Regions from separate parts of the Homo sapiens genome. Here region 2 is linked to region 1. The links come from fine-mapping of genetic effects on gene expression. A gene starts in region 1. The other region holds a variant in brackets. All regions are shown on one strand. Distances are between the middles of the regions. Region 1 holds the start of VAV1 (vav guanine nucleotide exchange factor 1). Region 2 overlaps VAV1 (vav guanine nucleotide exchange factor 1).

Evidence for each region. PIP is the estimated chance that this variant, and not a neighbour inherited with it, causes the effect.
Region 2: its variant is the best candidate, but not a certain one, in a credible set for the expression of VAV1 in whole blood (INTERVAL, PIP 0.56).

Annotation. Positions count from the first base shown.
Region 1 is chr19:6,771,152-6,774,163 of GRCh38, reverse strand. VAV1 (vav guanine nucleotide exchange factor 1) reads right to left here and starts at 1,456. Exons shown (of 27, transcript NM_005428.4): 1 at 1,153-1,456. The coding sequence starts at 1,356. RefSeq lists enhancers at 568-617, 726-1,226 and a silencer at 1,388-1,637.
Region 2 is chr19:6,826,456-6,828,955 of GRCh38, reverse strand. It overlaps VAV1 (vav guanine nucleotide exchange factor 1), which reads right to left. Exons shown (of 27, transcript NM_005428.4): 9 at 2,245-2,344; 10 at 785-880; 11 at 469-537; 12 at 248-334; 13 at 56-141. Among named protein-coding and RNA genes, the nearest start is that of VAV1, 55 kb to the right of the region's middle. The variant T/AAT (reference allele first, on the strand shown) is at 1,193.

The sequences.
Region 1 (3,012 bases):
AGAGTGAGACTCCGTCTCAAAAAAATAAATAAATAAATAAAATAAACAGAAGGAGTAAAGGCGCATGGATCTCTTCCACCAATGGCCCTGCCCCTGAAAACCACCCGCCAGGAACCCCCATGGGCCCATCTCCATTAACTTATCCTCCCAGCTCTTCATCTGCAGGGCCAGCCTGAGGACCAGATGGGAGCTGTCCCCTCAGACCTCAGGGCAGGACTGTGTCCCCCAGGCCCCAGGATAGGGCTGTATCTCCTTTCATCCCAGAGGAGATGGGACTCCACCAGCCCCGCCCCGTCCCCCGTTCCCACCCAGCAGCCCTGGGGAACCAGACATGATGCTACAGCAACATAATGCAGCCACATCACACGCCCACCCAACCACATTCAAATAGGGATTTGAATATATTTCCTGAGCCAGTCTCATACAGCCACAGTCAAATCCACCACCACCCCTCCAGCCTGGGCCCCTGCAGAAATCCCTGCCGAGAAAATGCAGCTCTTCCAAGCACCAAGACCTCAGGACCCACTCTCTGAGCCCAGGACTGGGCCCTGCCTTACTATCTCCTCTGAGATGGATGCAGGGAGGAAGCTCAGATCCCTGGGGCTGCAGCCCCCCACCTGCCCCATGCTGCCCCAGGCCCAGGCAGGAAGCCAAGGGGAAGGAAGATGTAAGGGGAAGGAAGGGGCCCAGGGCCCGGGAGGAGGAGACACATGTGGGGGAAGATGTTGGCGGAGGCTCCTCCCCCACATCCAGACTCTGGGGGTCAAAGGAGTCCAAAGCCTCAGGTAACCCAATGGCCACCCTGGGGGTTCTGGGGAGCTCCCCCGAGACCTCTGGTTGGTCCCATCTGGGGGCATGAACCACAGTAGAGGCGCCTGGGGCTTGAGAGAGTTAACCCCTAGTTTGCCAGTTCTCAGCCCAGATGCGGGCCAACTCAGGGCCCGTGAACCCACACAGGGAGCCTGTTAAGCTTGGGGAGGCCACCCCAGAATCTCAGATTGTGACCACCCCCTGGGCCAGCCCTGGACCTGTAAGCATATTCCCTCTCCTTTGCAGGCCCAGAGGTGGAGCAGCACGTCAGCCCCTCGACTGTCAGCCCCGGGGAGGACCCCCGTCTCCAACCCTCAGCACACCTGCCCGCGGAGGGCTCACCTGGGACATCTGGGGGCGCAGGTTGACCTCACGCAGGTTGATGGCATGGGGTAGCAGGTTGTTAAGCAGCTGACACAGAAGGACACCATCCCGGAGGGCCTGGGCCAGTTCACACACCTGAGCCCCATCCCAGGTCACGCGGTGGCTGGGCGGCAGCACCCGGCACTGGATGAGCCAGTGGGTGCATTGGCGCCACAGCTCCATGGCTACCGCCTGCCCAGGGCCGGCCGTGCACCCTCGCAGCCTCCACCACCCACCCGCCCGCACGCCTGCCCTGCTCGCCTGTGGAGCGACAGCTAGTGCTACCACTTCCTCTTCTTTGCCTGTAACTGTCGCCCTGAGAGGGGGTGGAGGAGGAGGAGCCATGGGGCGGGGGGGAGCTGGGGGAGCACCTGCAGCCCAGCCCCACCCCACGCCTTCCATGCAGAATCTGACATCTCTTTCTTCCGCCCACTCGACACAGGCCTGGGCATGGGGAGTTGGGGGGCTGGGGGAGTCAGGCCAGCTAGACTATGAGATGGGTGAGCTTCCTCCATATGCAGACGGCGGCAGTGACACTCTGAAATATACCCAGAATTCACCCACTTCTCACCCCCTCCTCTGTCTGGTCCAGCCCCGTCATCACTCAGCTGGTCTTCTGACTCCAGCCCCCGTACCCCACAGTCTGTCCTCCCTGCAGCCACCACCAGAGGTTGCCTGTGAGCATCTGAGTCAGGGCACACCCTTCTTCTGCCCACAACTCTCTATGGCTCCCACTTTCCTCCAGGGACAAGCCCAAGTCCTCCCCAAGGCCCACAAAACCCTGCTTGAATTGCCCAGTTCCCTCCCTGCCCTCCCCACTCCCTCTCTCCCCCTCTTCACTGTGCTCCAGCCACACGGGCCTCTTCGCTCTTCCTCCAACATGCCAGGAACATACGGCCCTGCCCCAGGGCCTTTGCACGGGCTGTGTCCTCCACCTTAAGCAACTTCATGGCTAGCTCCCTCACCCCTACATGTCTTTGCTCAAATGCTACCTTCTCATGAGGTCTTCCTAAATCCCCTCATTTCAAATCACAGCCTTTTCCGCATTCCATTAGCTCTACCCACCTCCCTAGGTTAAGCCCTGATCTTTGTCCAACAAATCTGATTTTTTAAGTTATTTTTTTCCTTCCTTCCTTTCTCTCCCTCTTTCCCTCCCTTCCTTTCTTCCTTCCTTCCTTCCTTCCTTCCTTCCTTCCTTTCTTTCTTTCCTTTCTTTCTCTCTTTGTTTCTTTCTTCTTTTTTTTTTTTTGAGACGGAGTCTCACTCTGTCACCCAGGCTGGAGTGCGGTGGCGCAATCTCAGTTCACTGCAAGCTCCGCTTCCCGGGTTCACGCCATTCTCCTGCCTCAGCCTCCTGAGTAGCTGGGACTACAGGCGTCCGCCACCGCGTCTGGCTAATTTTTTGTATTTTTAGTAGAGACAGGGTTTCATCGTGGTCTCGATCTCCCGATCTCATGATCCGCCCGCCTCAGCCTCCCAAAGTGCTGGGATTACAGGCGTGAGCCACCGCGCCAGGCTTCTTTCTTCTTTTTTTTTCTTTTGAGACGGAGTTTCACTCTCGTTGCCCAGGCTAGAGTGCAGTGGTGTGATCAGCTCACCACAACCTCTGCCTCCTGGGTTCAAGCGATTCTCCTGTCTCAGCTTCCCAAGTAGCTGAGATTACGGGCATGCATCACCACGCCCAGCTAATTTTGTATTTTTAGTAGAGACAGGGTTTCTCCATGTTGGTCAGGCTGGTCTCGAACTCCTGACCTCAGGTGATCCACCTGCCTCAGCCTCCCAAAGTGCTGGGATTACAGGCGTGAGCCACCGCGCCCGGCTTTTTTTTTTTTTTTTTTT
Region 2 (2,500 bases), 55 kb before region 1:
CTGGTCCCACCCCTTTGCCCAGGCTCCATCCCAGATCCATGTTGACTCCACCCACCTGTCCATCTTGGAGCGCCGTTCCACCGAGGTGATCTTGAGTTCCCCGTCGATCTTGGGCCGGCCATAGTGAGCCAGAGACTGGTCCTATGCAGTAGGCAGGGGGTCTAGCAAGGGTCTCCCAAGAAAGGAGCCAGACACACACTCTCCCCACGTGGCCACACCCCTGGCCCACCCGGCTCCACCGCCTCACCAGGTTCTCAATGGACAGCTGGAAATTGGTGATCTGTCGCAGTGTCTCGTTGTCTCGCTTGACCTCGTTCACGCACTGAGCCAGGTCCTGGGGAGGGGGCAGGGGTGAACCTGGCCCCCCAACAGCCGACCCAGGCTCCTACCTAATCCCGGCTAGAGGATCAGCCCCTACCAGGAGGGTGTCTGCAGCAGGTGAGTCACCAGCACCCTACACCCACTCACCCTCATGGCATCCAGGGCCAGCCGCAGGTTCTCCTTCTCCATCGCCTCCTGCGTGTGTTTCACCAGCTCCTGAGAGAACCAAGACGTCAGACGTCACCTGGGCCCCTCCCCTTCTCCCTGCGGGGAGGGCCTTCCAAACAATGCTAGCTCACCAGCTCCTCCATCGTACTGCTGACCCTGGAGGCTGAGACATGACCCCAGTGACCCATCCCCGAGCGTCCTAGAGACCCAACCCCCAGAAGCCAGCCCCGTCCCCACTTTTATAGACACAGGAGAGTAGGTACGTGGAGCCCACGCCTAGAGATGTGCCTGGCACCTGGAGAAGGAGGTGATATTTGAGAACTCGCTGCATAGGCACCATCAGCAGGTCCCGCAGGGTGAACCTCCCGTTGTTGGCTCTCTGAGAACATTCCTGGGGAATCAGAGAACAATGGGGAAACTGAGGCAGGTCCCAGAAACAGCCAGTTGCAGGGTGGGTGCAGATAGATTTGAATAAATACGTGAGCAGCTCTCCACCCCAGAGCTGTGGGAATTTTTCTAGAGGCCAAAGCATCATATCTGCCCCCAAGGAAACAGGAAAAGGACTCCATGAGGTGGGGGCAGCTTGAGAACCACTGGAAGGAACTTTGGGAGGCCGAGGCGGGAGGATCACTTGAGGTCAGGAGTTCAAGACCAGCCTGGCCAACACGGGGAAACCCCGTCTCTGCTATGAAAAAAAAAAAAA[T/AAT]AGCTGGCGTGGTGGCAGACTCCTGCAATCCCAGCTACTCAGGAGACTGAGGCAGGAGAATTGCTTGAACCCGGGAGGCAGAGATGGCATTGAGCTGAGATCACACCACTTCACTCCAACCTGGGTGACAGAGGGAGACTCCATCTCAAAAAACAAAGACAAACAAACAAACAAAAAAGCAATGGGAAGAGGCTGGGCACGATTGCTCAGGCCTGTAATCCTAGCTCTTTGAGAGGCTGAGTGGGTGAGTCGCTTGAGCCCAGGAGTTTGAGACCACCCTGGATAACATGGTGAAACCCCATCTCTGCAAAAAACACAAAAATTAGCCAGGAATGGTGGCATGCATCTGTAGTCCCAGCTACTCAGGAGGCCAAGGTAGGAGTTGGGAGGATTGCTTGAGTCCAGGAGGTCGAGGCTGTGGTGAGCTATGATCATGCCACTACACTCCAGCTTGGGGGACAGAATGAGACCCTGTCTCAAAAAAACAAAACAAAACAAAACAAACAAACAAACAAACCCACTGGAATGTGGCAAATGCTGCCTGGGATAGAGGTCCAGTATTCTGCCTGCTGAGGGGGGCTGGAGATGGGGAGGGGGACAGATCTGGAGAGCCCCCGTCCTCACCACCCCTGCCCTGTCTGTGTTTCCACCAGACAGATCCAGGTTGAAGTTCAGTTCAAGATCAAGTTCAGCCTGGGATCAGGGGTTGGTTGGAATTGGGGTTCAGTGAGAAGTGGGAGCTCAGCCCGACTTGGGGTACAATCAGTGCTAGGGCTCAGCCCAGGGCTGGGGTTGAGTGTGAGATCAGAGCTCAGTTCAGGGTCAGGACTTCACCCTGATATCAGGGGTCAGCCCAGACCCAGGGCCAGCCCATTTCTGTTCTTCTCCATTTCCTCTGCTTGGCTGGCTAGTACCTCCCTCCCTAGTCCTTTGGTGGATCTCTGGCTGGGCTGCAGCAGAAAGTGGACCATCTGCAACTCAGTGTCCTCCCTGCTGCCCCCAGGGCCTGGGGAGGAGCGGGAGAGGCCCCCGAGAAGTGGCCCGGCGCCCACCTCCAGCTTCATCTGCACGTCCTCCCGGGCTGCGGCCACACGGTCCAGGTGTTTGCTGGCTGACTCCACCTGGCTGCAGTAGCGGCCATAGACGAGGAACCTACAGGGAGAAGACAGGCCACCAGGTAAAGGTGACTGGCATCAAGGTCGGGCAGAGGCTGGCGTCAGCCCTGGCCTTGCTCTTCCCCGCTGGAGAAGAAACCTGAGTCCCAGTTTCTCCATCTGTGAAATGGGCATAACAATAGCATCTCCCATG